Homo sapiens: one gene and its partners. The protein of the gene in region 1 interacts with the protein of each later gene in a pairwise test. Each region holds a gene or a part of one and is shown in the gene's direction. Other genes may lie near its edges. The genes, in order: ZNF426, KRT3, USP25 and LONRF1.

Region 1 (7,838 bases):
GTAGGTTGTATGTTTGCATTTTCTTTCTTTTCTTTTTTTTTTTTTTCTTATACAAAGTCTCGCTCTTTTGTCCAGGCTGGAGTGCAGTGGTGCATTCATAGCTCACTGCAGCCTCAAACTGTTGGGCTCAAGCAATCCTCCCACCTCTGCCTCCCAAGTACCTGGGACTGCAGGCACATGCCACCATGCCTGGCTGATTAAAAAAATTTTTTTGTAGAGATGGGGAGTTTATGTTCACTGTGTTGTCCAGGGTAGTCTCGAACTCCTAGGCTTAAGCAATCTTCTTGCCTCAGCTTCCCCAAGGAGATGGGACTACAGGTGTGTGTTACCACACCAGGCTCATTTTAAAATTTTTTTGTAGAGACGGGGTCTCACCGTGTTGCCCAGGCTGATCTCAAACTTCTCGCCTAAAGTAATCCTTCCACCTCAACCTCCCAGAGCACTAGGATTACAGATGTGAGCCACTGCAACTGGCCTTATGTGTGTTTTCCTGATTTTGCAGGAATATATGGGAATTTCATACTAGGAGGTAATGACCTCTAGGTAGGTGGATGTGGGGATTATGGTCAGCTCGGGGTTCTCTTGCCTTCATTTTCTTACAGGACATTATCTTTCTGGGGACCCAGTTTGCCTTCATGAAGAAAAGACACCAGCAGGAAGAATAGTGGCTGACTGCCTAACAGATTGTTATCAGGTAAAAAGCAGCTGTATTCTTATACATAGTGACATACTTGCATCCACCAGGTAGACACATTTCCCTCTAGGCAGAGTTGTCTCCAGACTTCTTTTTTTTTTTTTTTTTTTGAGAGGGAGTCTCGCTGTGTTGCCAGGCTGGAGTGCAGTGCTATGCTCTCGGCTCACTGCAAGCTCCGGTCTCCAGGCTTCTTAAAGCAAATAAAGTGTCACTCAAGGACTGAATCCCCATTTGAATTTCCCCAAGGGTTGGGGCCACCCATATAGGGAGGTGCTAACTTGGAAATCATCCCAGGCCGGGCATGGTGGCTTACACCCATAATCCCAGCACTTTAGGAGGCTGAGGCAGGCAGATTGCTTGAGTACAGGAGTTCAAGATCAGCCTGAGCAACATAGTGAGACCCCGTCTCTACAAAAAATTTAAAAATTAGCTGGGCAAAGTGGTACATGACTGGACTCCCAGCTACTTTGGAGGCTGAAGTGGGAGGATCACTTCAGCCCTGGAGGTTGAGGCTGCAGTGAGCTGTGATTGCACCACTGCACTCTAGCCTGGGCAACACAGCAAGACTCCGTCTCAAAAAAATTAAAAAAAAAAGTGTCCTTTAAGTTGTTTATCAGCATTGATCAGATGTCTGGAATGTGCTGAGCAATGCGCTCAAATAGATGGAAATAAGATGAGATCTTGGGCGGGCACAGTGGCTCATGCCTGTAATCCCAGCACTTTGGGAGGCTGAAGGGGGCGGATCATGAGGTCAGGAGTTCGAGACCAACCTAGCCAGTATGCTGAAACCCTATCTCTACTAAAAATACAAAAAATTAGCCGGGCATGGTGGCGTGTGCCTGTAATTTCAGCTACTCAGGAGGCTGAAGCAGGAGAGTTGCTTGAACCTGGGAGGTGGAGGTTGCAGTGAGCCAAGATTGCACCAGTGCACTCCAGCCTGGGCAACAGAGTAAGAGTCCATTTCAAAAAAAAAAGAGATCTCCTAGTCTGGTTGTGCTGAGATAAATTCATATTCAAGAAGTGCCATTAATGCACTATGAGTGGAGGAGATGACAGTGAGTATGTTTAGGGTGCGAGGAGTTTCTAGGACCCTTAAAACCTGGGGCTGGTCACTGCAGCCCTTGGAATCCTGCATAGGCATTGGGTCCCCCTTCCTCATCCTCCAGCGAACGCTGATGGGCTTGTTACTTGGCTCCAACCAGCATGTGTGTGATGCTTTAGGATTCAGTGACCTTTGACGATGTGGCTGTGGACTTCACCCAGGAGGAGTGGACTTTACTGGACTCAACTCAGAGAAGCCTCTACAGTGACGTGATGCTGGAGAACTACAAGAACCTGGCCACAGTAGGTAAGACTGGCCTCATCCCTTGCAGCCTTCTATGGAACTGATATGTTTTGTACTTACTGTTTTGCAGCATTGGCAATGTCAACTCTGAATGCAAAGAGAAATAACAGAGACATAGTCCCTGTCCTAAATAGATTTTAATCTACTGTGACCATTCTGAAAATGTGGTCCAAGATTAATAGCAACACCATCTGCCTGTTAGAAATGTACATTTTCCTTCTCCACCCAGAAACCTGGAGTTGAAGCCCAATAATCTGTGTTTGAACAAGTTCTCTGGATGACTCTGATGCACAATAATGTTTTAAAAAACACTGGGGTAGTTGTTTCCCCAGAAGAATGAAGATCTCTGTTATACTTCCTTATTCCTTATTTGTTGTTGTTCTTGTTTTGAGACAGTTTCACTCTGTCACGCAGGCTGGAGTGCACTGGCATGATCTCAGCTCACTGCAATCTCTGCCTCCTGGGTTCAAGCGATTCTTGGGCCTCAGCCTCCCGAATAGCTGGGATTACTGGCATGCGCCACCACACCCAGCTATTTTTTTTTTTTTTTTGTATTTTTAGAAGAGATGGGGTTTCACCATGTTGGCCAGGCTGGTCTCGAACTCCTGACCTCAAGTGATCCACCTGCCTCAGCCTCCCAAAGTGCTGGGATTACAGGCATGAGCCACCACACTCGGCCATTATTTTGTGTTTGAATAAAAGTCTCAGTGCTTTTTAAATGTGTACATAAGCCTGAATTTCGGTTTAGGGGACAGAAGTAACCAGACTGTTTGGGGCACAGTCAGAGTTGTTATTTGCATTTTTCGCCCTTTTGAAATAGCTTCACCACTTTCATTAGATCTGTAGTTCCTGAATCACAGAAAGGTTTGTAATCTTTTTTATGAGCCTCTTCCATTAATGTATTTCTCTGTGCTCAGGAGGTCAGATCATCAAACCCAGTCTAATCTCTTGGTTGGAACAAGAAGAGTCAAGGACAGTTCAGGGAGGAGTTCTCCAAGGTGAGTGTTCATGAAGAACAACTCTGGTTGATGAGAAGTTCAGTATGTTTGAAAGCATAATTAGGAAACTTTTTAACATGTACTTTCTCCCTGCACTCTAAACCCCAAGGTTTAGAGAAAGTTAGGAAATATTTAACTTCCCACACGCTTTTATTTACAGAGCAGTCCCCCCTTGTCTGTGATTTCACTTTTCACGGTTTCAGTTATCTGCATTCAACCATGGTCCAAAAATATTAAATGGGAAACTCGGCCAGGCATGGTGGCCCACACCTGTAATCCCCACACATTGGGAGGCCTAGGTGGGTGAATCATTGAGCCCAGGAGTTCAAGACCAGCCTGGGCAACATACCGAGAACCTTGTTTCTACAAAAAATACAAAAATTAGCCGAGGGTGGTGGGACGCACCTGCTGTCCCAGTAACTCAGGAGACTGAGCTGTGAGGATGGATTGAGACTAGGAGGTCAAGGCTGTGGTGAGATGTGATTGCACCACTGTACTCCAGCCTGGGTGATAGAGTGAGACCCTGGCCACTGACCCCCACCCCACAAAAAAAAAAAAAAAAAAAAGAAAAAAAGAAAAATTTCCAGAAATAAACAAAACATAAGTTTTAAATTTCTCACCATTCTCAGTAGTATGATGAACCCTTATGTCATCCTGCCTGGGGTGTGAATCATCCTTTTGTCCAATGTATCTACACTGTGTACACCACCTGTGAGTCACGTAGCGGTCATCTCAGTTACCAGATCGAAGAATCATAGTATGTACAGGGTTCAGAACTAGCCATGATTCAGGCATCCACCTGGGGTCTTAGAACATTTCTTTAAGTTAATTGTGGCTTTTGTTTGTTTGTTTTGTTTTTTGAGATGGAGTCTTGCTCTGTCGCCCAGGCTGGAGTGCAATGGTGCAATCTCAGCTCACTGCAAGCTCCACCTCCCGGGTTTATGCCGTTCTCCTGCCTCAGCCTCCCAAGTAGCTGGGACTACAGGTGCCTGCCACCATGCCTGGCTAATTTTTTTATATCTTTAGTAGAGACGGGGTTTCACCGTGTTAGCCAGGATAATCTCAATATCCTGACCTCGTGATCTGCCTGCCTCGGCCTCCCAAAGTGCTGGGATTAAAGGCATGAGCCACCGTGCCCGGCCAAGTTAATTGTTTAGATATACGCTCTTTTTTCAGAAATTTCCTACTTTCATTCCCTGATTCTCTCTATTCACTATCAGTTTTAATTTTCATAGCATCAATTTGTAATAAACGATCGAAAAGTTTTACCCCATGTCCTTGTCTTGGCCAATTTTTCCCCCTTTGGATCATTTACATCAAAACCAAATTTTTGATATAGCCCAAATCCCCAAATGTCTTTCTGCTTTTTCTTGCCATGTTTAATTTGAAACAAATAGAAATAAGCCATATTGTTTTGAACTCTTTGCATTTCTTTCTCCAAATCCTTTCATTTGTTCTTGTTGTGGTTCACTCTGTTTGTTGCCAAGGCTGGAGTGCAGTGGTGTGATCTGAGCTCCTTACAACCTCTGCCTCCTGGATTCAAGAGATTCTCCAGCCTGAGCCCCGTGAGTAGCTGGGATTGCAGGTGCTCACCACCACACCCAGCTAGCTTTTGAATTTTTAGTAGAGGTGGGGTTTTGCCATGTTGGCCAGGCTGGTCTCAAACTCCTGACCTCAAGTGATCCACCTGCCTTAGCCTCCCAAAGTGCTGGGATTACAGGCATGAGCCACTGTGCCTAGCTTGAGTCCTTTTATTTGTTTGTCTGTTTTATTTCAGGATGGGAAATGCGACTTGAAACCCAGTGGTCTATACTTCAGCAGGACTTTTTGAGGGGTCAGACATCCATTGGGATACAATTGGTAAGATTTGCATAGGATATTTTTTATTTTCCACCCTCAGAGAAAATCAGGAATTCTGTTATGGGAAGTCAGCAAAAATAAGAGATATTTGAGAGAAGTTGCATACACATGAGAGGGAGCAAAGAATTTAGGGATGCTCCAATTGTGAAACTTGTTTCTTTGGAGCTTTCACACATTCCCACAAGTGTAACTAGACGTTGAGTTTTGTTTTGGTGTTTTTTTGAAACGAGATACTGCTCTGTCACCCAGGCTGGAGTGCAGTGGTGCAATCATGGCTCAGTATAGTCTTGACCTCCTGGGCTCAGGCGATCCTCCCACCTCAGCCTCCCTTGGTAGCTGGGACTACAGGCATGCACCACCACACCCAGCTAATTCTTCAAAATTTTGTGGAGACAGGGTCTTACTGTGTTTCCCAGGCTAGTCTCAAACTCCTGTGCTCAAGTGATCCTCTGCCTCAGTTTACAAAAGTGCTGGGAGTACAGGCATGAGCCACCACATCTGGCTTAGACTATGAATTTTTTTTTTTTGGTCGAGACAAGGTCTTGCTGTGTCACCCAGGCTGGATTGCAGTGGCACAAACATGGCTCACTGAAGCCTTGACCCCTTGGCTCAAGTGATCCTCCCACCTCAGCCTCCTATGTGGTTGGGACTACAGGAACACACCACCATGCCCAGCTAATTTTTTGATATTTTTTATAGAGATGGAGTTTTGCCATGTTGCCCAGGCTGGTCTCTAATTCCTGGGTTCAAATGATCCACCCACCTTTGCCTCCCAAAATGCTGGGATTACAAATGTGAGCTACTGCACCCATCTAGACATTGAATTCTACAGAAATCTGTTATTATTATTATTATTATTATTTTGAGACGGAGTCTCGCTTTGTTGCCCAGGCTAGAGTGCAGTGGTGTGATCTTGGGTCACTGCAACCTCCGCCTCCCAGGTTCAAGCGATTCTTGTGTCTCAGCCTCCCAAGTAGCTGGGATTACAGGCATGTGCCACCAAGCCCAGCTAATTTTTGTATTTTTAGTAGAGACAGGGTTTCACCATGTTGGCCATGCTGGTCTTGAACTCCTGACCTCAGGTGATCTGCCCCCCATCGGACTCCCAAAGTGCTGGGATTACAGGCATGAGACACCATGCCTAGCCAAGATTAAAGTAGATGGCACAACATTCTAGAATAAGAGTTAAGTCATACCACTTAAAATAAATCTACAGGGAAGGACCTGAATGCATGTAATAAAAATGGCATCAATTATAATCACCATTATAATGTTTCTAGCTTCAGATGGGTATGTTCTGTTAATATGTTTGAGAAAAATCCTTAAATCATCATCATCCCTTCAACAGGAAGGAAAACACAATGGAAGGGAACTCTGTGACTGTGAGCAATGTGGAGAAGTCTTCAGTGAACACTCATGCCTTAAGACGCACGTGAGAACTCAAAGTACAGGGAACACTCATGACTGTAATCAGTATGGAAAAGATTTCCTTACCCTGTGTGAGAAAACCTCTACTGGTGAGAAACTTTCTGAGTTTAATCAGAGTGAAAAAATCTTCAGCCTGACACCAAATATTGTATACCAGAGAACTAGCACACAAGAAAAGTCATTTGAATGTAGTCACTGTGGAAAATCCTTCATTAATGAGTCATACCTTCAGGCACATATGAGAACTCACAATGGAGAAAAACTCTACGAATGGAGGAATTATGGGCCAGGTTTTATTGACTCTACAAGCCTTTCTGTGCTTATAGAAACCCTCAATGCAAAAAAGCCCTACAAATGTAAGGAATGTGGAAAAGGCTATAGATACCCAGCCTACCTCAGTATTCACATGCGAACCCACACTGGGGAGAAACCATATGAATGTAAGGAATGTGGGAAAGCCTTCAATTATTCCAACTCATTTCAGATACATGGAAGAACTCACACTGGAGAGAAACCCTATGTATGTAAGGAATGTGGGAAAGCCTTCACTCAGTACTCGGGCCTTAGTATGCATGTACGATCTCACAGTGGAGACAAGCCCTATGAATGTAAGGAATGTGGGAAATCCTTCCTTACATCCTCACGCCTTATTCAACATATAAGAACTCACACTGGAGAGAAGCCTTTTGTATGTGTTGAATGTGGGAAAGCCTTTGCAGTTTCCTCAAATCTTAGTGGACATTTGAGAACTCACACTGAAGAGAAGGCCTGTGAGTGTAAGATATGTGGGAAAGTATTTGGGTATCCCTCATGTCTTAATAATCACATGCGAACGCACAGTGCCCAGAAACCATACACCTGTAAGGAATGTGGGAAGGCTTTTAACTATTCCACCCACCTTAAAATTCACATGCGAATCCACACTGGAGAAAAACCCTATGAGTGTAAACAATGTGGAAAGGCCTTCAGTCATTCCAGTTCATTTCAAATACATGAAAGGACTCACACTGGAGAGAAACCCTATGAATGCAAGGAGTGTGGGAAAGCCTTCACGTGTTCCAGTTCCTTTAGAATTCATGAAAAAACTCACACAGAAGAGAAACCCTATAAATGTCAGCAATGCGGGAAAGCTTACAGTCATCCCCGTTCACTTCGAAGACATGAACAAATTCACTAGTGAGAAACTGTCCATGTAATAAATGTGGGAAAGCTCTCATTTGTTCCAGTTCACTTTAAAGACATGAATGAACTCACTCTGGAGAGAAGAAGCTGCATGAAAATTACTTAATTCCTGTAATCCCAGCATTTTGAGAGGCTGAGGTGGGTGGATCACTTGAGGTCAGGAGTTTGAGACCACCCTGGCCAACATGGTGAAACCTTGTCTCTACTGAAAATACAAAAAATTTAGCCAGGTGTGGTGGGCACCTGTAATCCCAGCTACTTGGGAGGCTGAGGCAAGTGAATCACTTGAACCCAGGAAGCAGAGGTTGCAGTGAGCAGAGATCATGCCACT
Region 2 (4,771 bases), on another chromosome or scaffold:
CAGAGCGAGACTATGTCTAAAAAAAAAACAAAAACAAAAAACGGATGAGTTTAGAGTTGGGGAAGCATTTCCTCATGAGCCAGGTTGGGGAAGATCCTGGTTCTGGCATGTGAAAGATTCTGGGACAACTCATGGTATGGTGATCAACCATCCAGAGGTTTGCCTGGGACTGAGGGGTTTCCTGGGATGCAGAAATTTTAGTGCTAAAACCAGACAGTTTGCCTGGGCAAATTGACTTGGTTGGTCCCCCAACTAACAGGGAGATAGTAAAGAGGATGTGCTCATCTGAGAGGGGCAGGATAGGGATGGAGGGAGGGAAGAGATGAACTTTCAGAGTTCCAGGGAACAATGGTGTTTACGATGACCTCAAAACCAAACTCAGCTGTTTCTTTTTTATTCACACAGATATGAGGATGAAATCAATAAACGTACAGCTGCTGAGAATGAATTTGTGACTCTGAAGAAGGTAAGGGCTGTGTGTGAGGTTTCTGAGGCTTGCAGCTGCAGGTTTCTGGCTGGGTTGGGGGAATCTCCTCACTCCACTGCCACAGAGCTGCCAAGTTCAGGCCTTTGGAGCAATAAACAGAAGTCAGGTGCACCTTAGTCTGGAAGATCCCTAAAAGAGTTAGTTCATCAGTCTTTAGTTTTTTAGTAGGATTAAACTTAGACCATCCTAATGAGATACAAATTGCCCGTTCAAGTGGAGACTGGTCTTAGACAAGGACCATCACTGCACCAGTCCCCTCTGCTCTTTCTTGCTGCAGTTGTGGTTTGCTGTTTGTTCATTGGGAGAATAAGGCCTTTATCTTCCTCTTTTCTCAGGATGTGGACAGTGCCTATATGAACAAGGTGGAGCTTCAGGCCAAAGTGGATGCCTTGATAGATGAGATCGACTTCTTAAGGACCCTCTACGACGCTGTAAGGATGTTACCTACTAAGAAGGGACAGAGGGAGAGTGAGGTGTTTCCAGATTTGAGGCTGGTGCATTTTGGTATATAGGCCCCAGAAGACATCTGGAATGAGCCTGGAGATGAGGACCCTTGGAAGGGATTCCACAGGATAAGCTGCAGACATGGGGTTCTCTGAGTGGCTGCGGACAGGGTGTGGCTGATACACATGTGGAGCAAGGAATCAGTGAATGAGACTGTTGATCAAGAGTCTTTCAGGGCCCTGTGTGCTTGTTACAGGGACCCCAAAAGTGAACAAGCTCCCTCTGTGTTGACAGGAGCTATCTCAGATGCAGAGCCACATCAGTGACACATCTGTGGTGCTGTCCATGGACAATAATCGCTCCCTGGACCTGGACAGCATCATTGCTGAAGTTCGTGCACAGTATGAGGATATCGCTCAGAGAAGCAAGGCCGAAGCTGAGGCCCTGTACCAGACCAAGGTGGGTGCTAGTCACCTCTTACGGGATCCACTGGAGGTTTCAGAGAGGCCATGGCCTATTGGACAGCTGGGTAGTGAGTTCCCAGTGGTCACTGGGTGAATGCCTTTTGGTTTTACCCTCTGAAGTCATCCTTCTAATGGTGGTTCAGTTGCAGAAAGTCTTGCCCCTGGGGGAGATGGTTGCCTGCTATGTGGGACTGACTCCAACTTGCTCAGGAACTACAGGGTAGGAAAATCTTCTACCACAACAACCCAGATGTTCTCTTTCCTGCTGCCTTGGGGGTTTCCCTGCTGAAACACAATGCAGTATCATTTTAGCAAATGCCTTACTGAGCTTCTGAAGGTTTGGTGGGTGATGTTGGAGGTGTAGAAACAAGTCAAGCAAAGCTGCAGGAATACCCCATCTTCCCTTCTGTTCTGCAGTTGGGGGAGCTGCAGACCACGGCTGGCAGGCATGGGGATGACCTAAGAAATACCAAGAGCGAGATCATAGAGCTCAACAGAATGATCCAGAGGCTGCGGGCAGAGATCGAGGGTGTCAAGAAGCAGGTGGGATGGTCATGGATGCTGGCACCTGGGATGATTGCTGAGGGGCAGGGGCTAGGATCTCAGGACTCCTCCCCTGGAATAGACGTCTGGAGGTCATCTCAGGCTGGCTGACCCACAGGGCAGTATCTCCACAAATGGAGACAAGATGGAGGCACTAGGGGAGGAGGAATGTTCCCTGACTTTAAGATGGGATAATCCATTGCATGTCAGGAAGGGCCTGGGGCCCTCTTACTGAGCTCATTCCTCCTACCTCCCTTGCCCCAGAATGCCAACCTGCAGACGGCCATTGCCGAGGCCGAGCAGCATGGAGAGATGGCCCTCAAGGATGCCAATGCCAAGCTCCAAGAGCTGCAGGCTGCTCTACAGCAGGCGAAGGATGACCTGGCGCGGCTGCTACGTGACTACCAGGAGCTGATGAATGTCAAGCTGGCCCTGGACGTGGAGATCGCCACCTACCGCAAGCTGCTGGAGGGCGAGGAGTACAGGTGAGCCTCCAGTCCCGTCTTCCCACACCCCCTGGCTCAAGTCATAGGCCAAGGGCCAGATAAGTGACCAAGTAACTGGGGATGGAGCCCTGCTGTATAAAGAGAGGCCTTGTGGTGAAGCATTTGCCTCTACCAGCCCACTCCCTCCCAGGGCACGTATGCAACCAGTGCCCACAGGCTCTCCTTGCTACAGCCCAAAGAGGGGTGGAGAAAGCTTACCTGATTTGCCAGGCTTCTCTGTTCAGCTCTGGTTGCTATTCATGCCCTTGGTCCGTGGACTTGTTGGTGATGTGCTTTGTGACGGGGCCCACTTTCTCTTGCTTTCTCAAACAGGATGTCTGGAGAGTGTCCGAGTGCTGTCAGCATCTGTAAGTACCGAAAGTAGCTAAGAAAATGAGAGTTAATTCTGAAATATCTGCACTAATCCAGGGTAGTAGCAACTAATTTAAACATATTTTTACGGAAGTTGGAGGGGTTTTCTGGGAGAGGAGAGGGAAGTGATTGGCTTTTGTAATTGTTCTGGGTTCAGGGCACTTTTAATAGGCTTCGACGGCCAATGTGGAATATCCAACAGGGGGCCTCTTGATAGGAGGATAAATTCAGACGCTAGATCCCCTCCAAGGGGGTCATCAAGACTGTACTGTGGGAGGAACCACTGGCTAATTCATAATGGCTTAACGGCAGGGGAGTGAGTAGCTAGTGGCCTTGGAACGGCTCGTGGTGAACATCCTGTGCAAAGCTGCCTTGATCAGCTCTGGATAGTCGTGGGCCCGGTGGATCATTGACAATAACATAGCAGCTGGCCTGGGCGCCGTCGCTGATCGCTGTCCTGTCCTCTCCCCCACAGCCGTGGTCAGCAGCAGCACGACTTCCGCCTCCGCAGGTGGCTATGGAGGAGGTTACGGCGGAGGCATGGGCGGTGGTTTAGGAGGTGGCTTCAGTGCGGGCGGCGGCTCAGGCAGTGGCTTTGGCCGGGGAGGCGGCGGTGGAATCGGCGGTGGATTTGGCGGCGGCAGCAGCGGTTTCAGCGGTGGCAGCGGCTTTGGCTCCATCTCTGGCGCCCGCTATGGAGTCAGTGGCGGGGGCTTCAGCTCGGCCAGCAACCGGGGCGGCAGCATCAAGTTCTCCCAGTCCTCCCAGTCCTCCCAGCGCTACTCCAGATAAAGAGCACGCATCAGCATCGCAGCCACTCCAGCGCCTCCCCTCCGCTCCCCACGCCCCCATATTGGCAACACCCCCAGCGCCACCCCATGCTCCCCAAGAACGCGGCTCTGCGCTGGAAGGCTTGTGGCCTCTTGCTCCTCCTTCCAGATCCCCGGCCAAGCCCAGTCACGAGAATTTCAGGCTCTTCTCTCCGGCTCCAGCCTGTGCCTGTGATTGTCCAGGTGTGGCCTAGGCCGCCACCTTCTGCTGCCCCGGAGTCCCCTCCCTGGGTGGGATGCTCACTACAGCTCTGATGTATATAGCACACAGCCCCCTCCGCCCCTCCGGTCTGTCGCCAATAAAGTGCACTGTGTTTCACTCCGGGCCTCTGAGTATTCGCTCCATGTCCTTCTCCTTAGGGCACTGAGCTCCCTGGTCACCTCCCTGGCCTCCCTGCCTCTGCCTCTCCCATGTGGGCTCTGTGATCCACAGAGCAGCTGGAGAACTCTTCCTCTGAAACAAAGGCAGTTCGTCTTCTCAGTCCATGGTGCGGATCCGGTTGTTCATTATTCTGTGAGCACCGTGGGGAGGGAGAGGTCCTGCTCCCCGACGCTGTTGTACCCTGTGTACCCTTACCGTCCTTAGTGGTGAAGGCTGGCCCATGCAGACATCTGTCTCCTCCCTGTCTTCTCTCATGTGGGGGAACTAAGAGGGCCTTGGGGACAGAGGGTTTCTTCCCTTGGTGTTGATTCTCACTCCAGCTGACATCGTGAAAGCTTTTCCCCCATCAAGGTGCTCCGGGAAAGTGCGGGCTGCTGGAAGCCCAGGGATGGAAATAGGCCCCAGAGCAGCCTATGTCAAAGTCTGACCCAGGAACACCATTCCATTGAGACACTCTGCAATAAAAGACTCCACGCCCATTACATCTTTTCTTTTTGGAGCACATATTAGAGTTTCTAAGAAGTTCAGTAGCAAGGAAAACCTGTTAGCTTCCTTGAATCCAACATTTCCTGCAGAGGCCCCCATTCCTGCACCTAGCACTGTGCATGCACTTGGGGCCTGAAAATAGGTGCACCAGCCATGAGAGTTCTTGTCATCCTGGCTTCTGCCCTGCACCAAGAAGCTCTGATAATGTGTTAGTTGGCCATGGGAGTGCTGTCCAGAAGGTGACTGCTGGAAAGGACTCAGAAGCAAGGAGTCCAAGG
Region 3 (7,838 bases), on another chromosome or scaffold:
TTCAACATCACGTTGAAGAAGACAGAGAAGACTTGAGCTACTAAGTCATGGTTTTAACCAGTGTCTTTTTCTTTGGGCTAGAAATTCTAATGTAAAGAATTATTTTCGAAGGATAGTTGTGAGATTTCTTTTTTTCCTGATCATATATTATACCCACTCTTGGAATTTTCAAGAGGTGTGGAAAACTTTTAGAAAGAGGTTGAGTTTTAACTAAACTGTGTACCCAGTTACTTGTCAGGTCCGCATTGTGGTGATACATATAACAATGTCAGTGCCCACATCCTGTGCCTAAGATTGCAGTGAAGAAAACAAAGGTGGTATTAAAGTTTTTGTTATTGTTTTATTTCCTTTCAGCATTGGTTTACTGAATTACCACCTGTGTTAACATTTGAATTGTCAAGATTTGAATTTAATCAGGCATTGGGAAGACCAGAAAAAATTCACAACAAATTAGAATTTCCCCAAGTTTTATATTTGGACAGGTATGGTTTGATATACTGCATGACTTAGTTTGAAACAGTTTAGTAAGGGAGAAAATATTGTTTAGAGGAAAATTCTGCATAATTTTCTTAGAATTAATTTCTACTTTTGCATAATATACCTAATACCATTTGTCAAGGTAGATGAAATTTACTTTGTATTAGAAAAGTATAGTTTTTGGGAATAATGTTATAAGGAAATTTAAAAAAGATGAATTTTGTAATCTTAAAATTCAGAATTTTAAAAAATACCATTTTGTATTATCTACCTTACATCTTATACAATTTTGAATGAATTGATGCTTTGTGGTGATGTCTGTACTTAATATTGTATCTATCTATCTTTCTGTCTTTCTTTCTGTCTCTCTGTCTTCCTGTCTTTCTGTCTTCCTGTTTTCCTGTCTTTCTTTCTTTTGTTTTTTTCTGTCTGTCTTTCTGTCTATCTTTCTGTCTTTCCTTCTTTTTTGTTTTGAGACAGAGTCTTGCTCTGTCGCCCAGGCTGGAGTGCAGTGGTGCGATCTTGGCTCACTGCAAACACCATCTCCTGGGTTCAAATGATTCTCCTGTCTCAGCTTCCCGAGTAGCTGGGATTACAGACACCCACCATCGTGGCTGGCTAATTTTTGTATTTTAGTAGAGACGAGATTTCACCATGTTGGCCAGGCTGGTCTTGAACTCCTGACCTCAGGTGATCCTCCCGCCTTGGCGTCCCAGAGTGGTAGGCCGGGTACGCTGGCATCTGGCCATATTGCATCTACTTTCATGATATTCGGAAATGCTAATGATTACCTTTTTCTGATAGATACATGCACAGAAACAGAGAAATAACAAGAATTAAGAGGGAAGAGATCAAGAGACTGAAAGATTACCTCACGGTATTACAACAAAGGCTAGAAAGGTATTTTAACTTTTATGAAATTAGGAGATAATTATCAGAAACCATGTATTTGGTGACTAGATTTTTAATTTCAAATTTGCTTTGAGTGATTTATAATTTTAGGAGTAGTTAATATTGTGTGAATAGTTTTGAGTTTTGCTTGAAACTAAAAATCTATAGTAGACTTTAAAAAATTATTCTAGTGTTTAAAATTAAATATCTCATTGTCAACAGGTAATGTTCCTACTGCTGAAAATAGATACAAAGTTAAATGAATATAGTTTTGACCTTCCTTTTTGCATGAAACTAAAGATTACTCTTGAGATTTTCATTAAAATGAATGGTATCTGAGTTTTTCTCCTTAAAACAGGATACAAACTCAGCTGCCTACCAAGTCTTCTCAGCAGCTTCGTAAAGGAGGAAATTGTGTCAGGTGTAAGATGGTATGTGCCGGGAGCCTAGAGAGCAATCTGTGTGTACAGGGAATGAATGCCATTCCATACCAGTGGATGGTACCATGTATGAGTATGGCCTCACTGTTGTCTATTGATTTGGATCATTTCTAAAAGACGTCAGAATCTGGACTGAGAAATGTTCTACAGGCCAGACAGAAATCTAAAGGCTGAAATGTCACAAGTCATTTCAGTTTGCAAACCCCAATCTGCTCTGCATTCCCCTATTTTAGGAATTTTCAAATTAGTAGTCTAAAACTTCTTACATCAAATAGTATATTGTATTTTAATGATTTTTATTCTTAAAAAGTATGAATAATCATATTGAAACATGATTAGTGGTAAAAGATAGGAGGATAGTACACATCACTGTCTTGATCATGAGACCAGATGCCAGATCTAAAAATAAAAACAGTCTCAGGAGATGTCAGTTTTCATCTTCCTATTGAGTTACAATTTAGAACAGCATTTACAGATTATAACAGTATATACTCACATTCAGTCCCAATCGGCCTTGGTTTCCTGTCTTTGGGGAACTTTTAATGTTTTTCTTAAGTGTATATTCAGTTTTACCATCTTCGTTTTAAAGCAAATGAATTTTATTGCTGAGGAAGTTTTATTGAAGTATCGTATCACGTTTTATAATAATAATAAAGGCCCAAATATGCTGTATATAGAAATAAAAGCATTTGTACATTTTATGATTAACAGATATTTAAGCTATGGTTCCGGTCCCAAACGATTCCCCTTGGTAGATGTTCTTCAGTATGCATTGGAATTTGCCTCAAGTAAACCTGTTTGCACTTCTCCTGTTGACGATATTGACGCTAGTTCCCCACCTAGTGGTTCCATACCATCACAGACATTACCAAGGTAAAAAGTAATCCTGATGCAAGAGACAGTTGTTACCTTTATTACACAATAATGTAACTGCTGCCTTTAAAGACAGTTTCTATAAAATGTATGCTTTGATTTACTTCAGTGAACTCCTAAGAGTAGATTCACTTAGAAGACTGTATGTCCTCTGGGAGTTTTTTTATTATTTCAGTAGATTTTATGGTTATGGATTAAAATTTTAATCACATTTTTTTTCAGTTCAGAATTATACTTTAGCATGTTTTGGTATGTACATATATAAGATTCAGCATTTTATGATCCATAAAAATAGTACTATCAAATTAGAATTTGTTTCTGTAATGTAAGCTGATAAGCCAGGGAAAATAATATCACCATGCGTAAGATTTTCTTGTTTTTTAGAAATAAATATGATTAAGCTGTTTTAACTCTAAAGCTACAACTTCATCTTATAATAATTTAGTTCTTATGTATTAAAAATCTCATTTGGATGTTAGATCAATCCACATATTTCTTTAAGATTTTTTCTTTTGAATTACAAGCCAATTTAATACTGTGGGTTTGGCACGATCTTTGTCAAGAGTTTCAGCTTGAAAGGTTAATAAGAAATACTCTATGCTTTGATACAGCACAACAGAACAACAGGGAGCCCTATCTTCAGAACTGCCAAGCACATCACCTTCATCAGTTGCTGCCATTTCATCGAGATCAGTAATACACAAACCATTTACTCAGTCCCGGATACCTCCAGATTTGCCCATGCATCCGGCACCAAGGCACATAACGGAGGAAGAACTTTCTGTGCTGGAAAGTTGTTTACATCGCTGGAGGACAGAAATAGAAAATGACACCAGAGGTAAGAAGTGTCTCATAGCATGGTTACTGTCACCTCAGATGGATATGTGTAATGTTAATATTGAGAAGGGAAATCACGTCTGGATTTTATATTTAAATATTATAGTCATTTTTCTTTTCCAGAAAGGGTTTTAAGATAAACTAGTTTGGCTCCCCATTTTTATAATCTCAATATCAGGTTCACAGGGACCAAAAGATTTTCCCTGGATTGCTTAGCTGATTAATGACATAGCAGATGGCCTGATTTTCTAGTTTGCTGCTCTAAATTTATATCAAACTGGTATTCACAGTTACTCCATTGGAGAAATGTCATACAATATCAATGTTTGTACATATCAATTAGGTACTAAATCTAAGTTTGCACAGGGAGTTCCGGTGATTAAAAAATTTTCTTTGGGCTTAAGAATTAGAAATGTGAATTTTAATTTTTAATAGCTCTAACAGATTTATGAGTATCTATGATCCCATTACTAGTCTGTAACAGAGTTTTTACTGGCATGCAGCAAAATAAGAAAAATAAGGACAGTGCTCTGGGTGGGGTGTGTGCACTTGTGTGCGTGTGCGTGTGTGTGTGTGTGTGTGTGTGTGTGTGTGTGTGTGTGTCAAGTTGCCATCTGTCCTTTCTTGGAAGGAACTCTCTTTTATTCTTTTCTATTCTATTTTTTCTTTTTTTTCAGAATAAGTTATTCTGAACTTTTCTCTTTCCTACTTTGCTGCTGTTAAAGTGTACTTAAAAAAATGGATTATGGTAGATTTTATTACATTTTTTTCCTTAAATGTGAAAATATAATTCCCTATTATCATTCCCCAATTTTATGCTGATTTATTGATTTTTGAAAAAAATGAACTATGTGACATGGTTGGAATTATATTGAACAATATTGATTGTTGGATATTATATGACCAACTTAACTCTTTATAGACAATATTTGAAAAAGAATGGCCCTAATTTAGTAAGAAGTACATAAGGTATGATGGTGACTAACAGCATTAGTAGCTGTCAAGATTTTCTTTAGTATTTTTCAAATAAGAGGGAATTTTTAAAAATATTTGAACTCATTAACAAACATTAATCAAGCAAATAGTGTTGATGAAGCACTATATTAGGCGTTGGGTAATTTTCTACTCCTCATGGCAGGTTGTTTTTAAAAGATTACATTCAGAGGAGTGGAAGCTAGGAAGCTTTTGACACCTAAGTAGTGGCATTGAGGGAGGGAAGAAGTGAATGTACTTAAAATACTCTTTGGAGACAACTGACAGATGTGGGTCATTGGCTAGAGGTAAGAGAGAGGGACGAATCGAATGATTCTCTCAGTTCATAATGGTATGAATAACCAAATAGAATGTATTTTGGAAAAAAGGTAAAGCAGTGGGCAAAGAGGTTCCCACTCAGGGGAGGAAAGAGAAATATGATGAGTTCTCTTTTGGCCATTTTAAGTTTGAAGAGCTTTTTTGAGACGGAGTCTCGCTCTGTCACCAGGCTGGAGTGCAGTGGCATGAACTCGGGCTCACTCCAGCCTCTGCCTCCCAGGTTCAAGCGATTCTCCTGCCTCAGCCTCCCAAGTAGCTGGGATTACAGTTGTGTGCCACCACACCCAACTAATTTTTGTATTTTTAGTAGAGATGGGGTTTCACCATGTTGGCCAGGGTGGTCTCAATCTCTTGACCTTGTTATCCGCCCACCTCAGCCTCCCAAAGTGCTGGGATTACAGGCGTGAGCCACCATGCCTGGCTGTTAAGATTTTTATATGTAATACTATGGATCAGGAAAGAAGGTTTTCCTCAGGATATTTTTTTTCTTTCTTTCATCCATATTGATGTTAGCAGTTAGCATTATTTTGTAAACTATTGTGTAATATTCCAACACACGGGTATGATGTAATTCATTTAATTCCCATATTGATATTTCCTAAATAGTGCTGGTCTTCGATATACATATTTATACACTTCTGTAAGTAGGATATGTTCTTTTTTATGTTCAGGGGTACATGTGCAGGTTTGCTATAAAGGTAAATTACATGTCTTGGGGGTTTGGTGTAAGATTATTTCATCATGCAGGTAATAAGCACAGTACCTGATAGGTGGTTTTTCCATCCTCACCCTGCTCCCACCCTCCACCCTAATGTAGGCCCCAATATCTGTTGTTTCCTTATGTCCACCATTTCTGGTTCAGAGTGTGTATATTTTAAATTTTGACGACTGTTTTAAAATTGTCACTCCAAAACATTAAACCAGTTTGCATTCCCACTGTGTGAGAGAGCCTGTCTCCCAGTATCCTCCCTAGCCCTGGACACTTTTTAGTAGTTTTTCACAATTGAAAAACTGGTATTTTAGTGTTTTGATTTGCATTCCCTTAGCTTCGAGTGAAGTTGGATATTTATATTGTTCTGTAAATTTCTTGTTTGTGACATTTGCCCATTTTTTAAGTATTGAGCTATTTGTATTTTTCTTATTACTTAATAGAAAGTTTAATGTATTGTGGATATTAACACTTTACCTATAATATCACATATGCTGCAGATATTATTTTCCCAGTTTTTCATTTGATTTTATGTTGGTTTTGTTTTCTTTTTATAATGTAGATTTTTTAAAGTGTTGGGCAGGGAGGATCTTATCTTTTCCTATAAGGTTACTAGTTTTCTGACAGGCTTAAGACAGGTCTTTCCCCACTCTAAAGTTAGCCAGTTTCTTTTATAGTTTTTCAAGGTTTCTTCCTGATTGGTTCAGCAGCTTCACAATATGATGTGGTTACAATCTAACCGTTTCCTTATTGACAGATATTTAGGTTATCTCTTTTTTAAAAATTATTGTGGACAATATGACTGTGAACATCCCTATCTGAACAATTTTGTAGGATTATTTTCTACTAGAAGTAGAAATAATTGTCATGGGAGTGCCATAATTTTATTTTCACTGGTGATTATAGTCGATTTTTATTCAGTTATGTGTGTGTACAAGATATGTGGTGAACATGTTTTACTTTGTTCTTAAGTTTACTTGTGTTATAGCAATATGTAAGGAAGCTTAGCTTTCATTTTCATTGAAACTCTCCTTTATAGATTTGAACAAAATTCACTTTTATTGGCTCTGCACATTTTCTAGATAAATCATATTTGTGTTGTTTTTAAAGTATGCATTTGTACTGTGTCTTTTATTAAGAATAACTATAATTCATTTTCTACAGATTTCAAATGGTAATGTTTTTTAAGAAAAGTTTTAGGAAAATTTTCCTATTCCTCTAACATGTTTGTAGGAAAAACATTAGTCCTTATCTTATAAGTAGAAACACATTTGCTGTTAATCATTAAATGACACCTTATATCCTTAGATTTGCAGGAAAGCATATCCAGAATCCATCGAACAATTGAATTAATGTACTCTGACAAATCTATGATACAAGTAAGTGAAATTTTGAGCTAGTAATCATTGTCAAAATTATTTACATATATTTTAATTTACCTTTACATTATCTTAATCTAATTTTTCTTTACATGTTTTGTTTTAAAATTTTGGCAAATCTTATTGTAAAATAATAAGGGCTTGCAATATGTACAATGTGACAGTTCATCTGAATGGGGAAACTTTTATAACAAATTTATAACAAAATTCATGACAAGTTTTCCCCATTCAGTTGTATTTTCACACCGTATGTGTTGTGTACCCTTACTATTTTACAGTAAAATCTACCAAAGTTTTTCAAAAGGCTATAGCATCTTTAAAAAGTCTTATGGGAGAAAATCTATGGTTGTTAAAGGATATTAAGATTTGGGAAGAAACTTAAGGACTCCATTACATTTTAACTTCTGGTGTATATCATATAATCTATTTTGTTAACCGTCAATTTAGAATTCTGAAGATGTAGACACATTTGCTATATGTAAAACTGCCCACTATAAGCTTTTTATTCAAATAAACAATTAGGCCAATGAGTATGTACACAATAAATACATTTTTAGTTTTTCAAAAATCATCTTTTTAATCTATCAACTTTGCATATCTTTAGCTTATTCAGATTCCGTCTTTTTAAAGTTTTATAGTTTAGTTTTTTTCAAACTTTTAAGCCCAGCCAGTTCTCTCTCATTTAAAAAAAAAAATGCTCTTATGGTTTTCTCCAAACAGGTTGTTTGTGGGTTTCATGGAATGTGGTATATAGTAAACTACATAATTGCAGTTTAACTCTTCTTTTTTTCACATTTAGGTTCCTTATCGATTACATGCCGTTTTAGTTCACGAAGGCCAAGCTAATGCTGGGCACTACTGGGCATATATTTTTGATCATCGTGAAAGCAGATGGATGAAGTACAATGATATTGCTGTGAC
Region 4 (3,959 bases), on another chromosome or scaffold:
TTAAATAACAAAACAGCTTATAGAAAAATTCAGCATAACTTTTCCATCACCTTCACCACCCTTGCCTTTTATTATCCTGTCCTGTATCACTGCTTTCTGTTAGCAGTGTTGTGTGAGTTAGGATTTGGGCAGGAAAGCAAAAGCAACCACCCGTCATTTTCCCAGAATGAAGGGTTTGACGTAGGATGTAGACTTTGTATAGTAGTTGGGAGAGCTGTGGGAGTGAAGGTCAGGGATGTCACCTACAGAAGTCAGGGAATCTGCCACCAGAGATCCTGCATCAGAAACAGCCAACAGCGTGCTTCTGAAGAACTAGTGGGGAAGTGGCTATAATTCTTAGGAATCCCAGCAAGTCTGCACCACTGTCTCAGTCTACAGCAGTGGAGAAAGGGGTTTCCAGGAGCTCTCTGGAAAGTTCCTGCCCACACTTTGCAACAATCTTCAGAGGATAATGGCTTCTCTTCCAGCTTCCACACCCAACAAGAGTGCCTTTCATCGGCCAACTCTAACCTGGAACCCTATGGCAGAGGGGATTTTAGAAGACAGTTTGTAATGTCTGTGGAATGCAGATGAAGAGGTAGCAATGCTTAGTTGACAGCGGACAATACACAAATATAGAAACCGAATCTGATTCTAGAGGGGCCTACTGAGATCAGCACTGATGTCGTAGCTCCTTTTGTCATTCTGAAGCTTTATATTTTAAGTCCGATAAATAGCAATTTAAGGTTCAGTGAAGGTGGCTTACAAGTCCTTTTATGGAAATTTCTAGTTGTTTCAATAGCCAATAGTCAGCCCTCACAGCATTACCAGGACCTTTTCACTGGAGATATGTTTCTTTTTTGAACAACATTGGAAGCTGGGGCCTTTTTCTTCTGTCTTTCCAAGGGTTCCATAATACTTTGAGGAAATTTTAAATCTCAATTAACATTTCTTAATGCTTTAAATCTATAGCTCAAGAAAGTGGCTGTCAACTAGGGGCATGTTGCCCCCACAGGATATTTGGCATTACCTGGAGACATTTTTGGCTGTCACAGCTGGATGGGAAGGTGCTACTGGCATCTGGTGGATAGAGATCAGAGGTGCTGCTGAATGTGCTCTAGTGCATAGGACAGCCACATGCAACAAAGAATTATCTGGCTCAAAGTGTCAGTAGCCTGAGGTCGAGAAGCCTTGCTAGTGTAATAGGAGGAAAGAGCGTGTGTTGACTGTGGGGAGTCAGGTCTAGATTTGAATCTCGGCTCTGCCACATAAGAGCCAAGAGATCTTGGACAATTTGCATTACATTGCTGAGCTTCAGTTTCTCCCATTTTATACTTTGCATAATTGTTAAGGACATTGGAGATAGCACCTGGCACATAGTACAAGTGCTCAATAAATAGTAATTTTTTGGTGGTTTGCTACTGTTGTTACATAAATCCTTGTTTTATTAATGCTATAAACTGTCCATTGTTTTTAGGCAGCCCCTAATGGACCTGCATGGTGTTGGTGGCTTCTTGCAGTTCTCCCTGTAGACCCACGATACCAGCTGTCGGTTTTGTCAATGAAGTCTTTGAAAGAACGGTTGACCAAGATACAGCATATACTGACCTATTTTTCTAGAGACCAATCTAAGTAACTAACTCTTTGGATCTCCCTTTAAAGTGACCCTAATCTGGCTGCATTGATGGCCAGATTGTCTGCTGCCTTTGCACATCTAGTGCTGGTTTCAGAAATTTAATGAAACTTTTCTTTTTCCTTCGACCTCCTGAATCATGTGGTTCTGCAAATGAATACCTTCAACTAGGATTTAGACCACTAAGAACTTGCACAGAAAAACACGCATTGAATGTGTGTCGAACCTCTACATTGTGAAGTTGCACTATGTACCATACTCTAAAATGAAATAAGAACTCTTTATGTCTGTGAGAGAGTGTGTGTGTGTGTGTGCGTGCGTGTGTGCTTGTGGGGGTTGGGTAGTGTGTGTGTATTTTCTCTGGCTTTAAAATTTTAAAACAAACAAACAAAAAAGCCATAGAGAGCAGAACTTGCCGAGGGTCATTTATTGCCCAAGTTTACAAGAGTAGCGATACAAGTTTTTGCAAATTGAATTTGCCTCAGATATATCTGTCCTAATGCTTATATTTGCACAAGTATGTAAAATATCGTGTTGAGGATCATTCTTTGTTGGAAACACTGCTCTTGCTGAACTGTCTTGACCATTGACTATGACACAGTTTCTTATTTATGTAAATACTTGCATCACAGTGGCCGACAGGCATTGGATGCAGAACCTAGAGCCAGTTTTCAGGAACAATTGTAAACCTGACATGGTACTGTGCATCTATTCATAAAACACTCAAAACTGTGAAAATATGGTTTACATTTAATTGTACATAAAGGTAAAGGGAGAACTCAATTCAGTACCAGTTAGTTTGTACATTTTAGGGGGCTTTTCACATTAACTGCCCATTTGTGTAATTTATAGTTTGACATGATGTGTTTGTTTTAAAAAAAAATGCATAGTATAAACCCATTAAGGATCTGGGAAAAGAGAAGAAGTTTAATATAGAACTAAGCTTTTAAAGTTTGTTTTTGTTTTTAATTCTGGTCTCGGTGCAAATGTTAGTTATGCCTTATTCATATCACAGTTAGATCACCATGCTGCAACATGGTTTATATTCATGCTGCCCTAGAAACTTTTGTAATTATTTGTTGCAAATTTGTGACTGTCCTTATTAACTTTCTTTTATGTAAGTAATTTGTAAAAGTTTCTTAAAATTTTTGCTTTTGCTTATTTAATTTTGAATAAAAGCTAAATTCCTAATACTTTTTCTTAAATTGTAGGTCAGTGTTATAAAAACAAGTCAGTAGAAGAACCAAACTGCATATGTTAAAGAACAGATGAGTTTTGCTTATGGTTTGGTGGCATTAGATATATGCTATGGTTTCCAAAAACTTTGGCCATTTTTATTTTTTGAGAAAAAAAAAGCAATTTATTGAGGGTTTAGGCCTCGGAACCATCCCTAAAGCACTATTTTTCAACCTTTTAAAAATCCATGTCCCTTTAGGGTAAGGCTAAAATTCTTTCTTTGATGCCTCACCATTTGAGACTTCTCTTGGTTACACAGACTGGACTGTTTCTGCCCCCAGTTCCTCAGCTAGGATTTTGCAAATGTCAGTCAATCATCTTTTTTTTTTTAGAGACAGGATCTTGCTCTATGGCCAAGGCTGGAATGCAGTAGCACAATCATAACTTGCTGCAGCCTCAAACTCCTGGGCTCAAGTGATTTTCCTGTCACAGGATCCTTGGGGTGGCACTTTGCCAGCCAGAAATGTCTGTGGCCGGTGGTGCCTTCTGCCTGAGTAATGCTCATGCCCACTGGGCTTGTTCTGGCCACTCAGCCTGGCAGGCCGTGCTTGGCTTTTGCTACCAGCCCAGATCCCCCACCTGCCAAGAGCGAACCAGGCACGGAGCAGCGAGGGGTGTGTGGGCAAGTGCATGCAGGGTCCAGACACTGCACACAGCCAGGCACACCAGCTGCTGTGTTGGGGTGGGCACCTTCATGCGAGGTTGCAGCTGGACCAGATGCACCACGTGGCTTCCACTGCAGGCACCCACATCTGGACAAGGGGAACACTGTGGCACCCAGAAGCTTGGAGATGCCAGGAACCACAGAGCTCCAAAGAGGGTGTCACAGCCCTGGCTTAGGCACCCTTTAGGTCTGGACTCCCCAAATAGCTGTAGCTCTTCTTGTCACCCACAATGTGGTGAGTTGGGGTGCAAGGGGGGTATGTGTTTCAGCCCTGTTTGTGTTATAGTTCTTTCAGTTTCACCATTTAGCAAGTCCTGAGTTCTTTCCCTGCATCCAGGAAGAATGAGGTGGACAGACAACTGGAAGGTGAGCAAGGCAGAGAGGAGCTTCACTGAGTGATAGAACAGCTCTCAGGAGACCCAAAGTGGGTAGCTCCTTTCTGCAGGC

The links.
Region 2: the proteins of ZNF426 (region 1) and KRT3 interact in binary tests that used the Homo sapiens proteins (3 or more experiments, as listed by UniProt).
Region 3: the proteins of ZNF426 (region 1) and USP25 interact in binary tests that used the Homo sapiens proteins (3 or more experiments, as listed by UniProt).
Region 4: the proteins of ZNF426 (region 1) and LONRF1 interact in binary tests that used the Homo sapiens proteins (3 or more experiments, as listed by UniProt).

Annotation. Positions count from the first base shown.
Region 1 is NC_000019.10:9,528,044-9,535,881, reverse strand, and holds part of ZNF426 (zinc finger protein 426), read left to right. Parts: intron 1-602; coding exon 603-694; intron 695-1,915; coding exon 1,916-2,042; intron 2,043-2,956; coding exon 2,957-3,037; intron 3,038-4,814; coding exon 4,815-4,897; intron 4,898-6,245; coding exon 6,246-7,502; 3' UTR 7,503-7,838. UniProt on the Homo sapiens protein: May be involved in transcriptional regulation.
Region 2 is NC_000012.12:52,788,858-52,793,628, reverse strand, and holds the end of KRT3 (keratin, type II cytoskeletal 3), read left to right. Parts: intron 1-405; coding exon 406-466; intron 467-822; coding exon 823-918; intron 919-1,225; coding exon 1,226-1,390; intron 1,391-1,812; coding exon 1,813-1,938; intron 1,939-2,202; coding exon 2,203-2,423; intron 2,424-2,756; coding exon 2,757-2,791; intron 2,792-3,270; coding exon 3,271-3,587; 3' UTR 3,588-3,944; downstream 3,945-4,771.
Region 3 is NC_000021.9:15,823,685-15,831,522, forward strand, and holds part of USP25 (ubiquitin carboxyl-terminal hydrolase 25), read left to right. Parts: intron 1-354; coding exon 355-482; intron 483-1,281; coding exon 1,282-1,377; intron 1,378-2,519; coding exon 2,520-2,681; intron 2,682-3,292; coding exon 3,293-3,519; intron 3,520-4,656; coding exon of another isoform or gene 4,657-4,667; exon of another isoform or gene 4,668-5,001; intron 5,002-6,846; coding exon 6,847-6,917; intron 6,918-7,716; coding exon 7,717-7,838. UniProt on the Homo sapiens protein: Deubiquitinating enzyme that hydrolyzes ubiquitin moieties conjugated to substrates and thus, functions in various biological processes including inflammation and immune response.
Region 4 is NC_000008.11:12,720,752-12,724,710, reverse strand, and holds the end of LONRF1 (LON peptidase N-terminal domain and RING finger protein 1), read left to right. Parts: intron 1-1,456; coding exon 1,457-1,615; 3' UTR 1,616-2,805; downstream 2,806-3,959.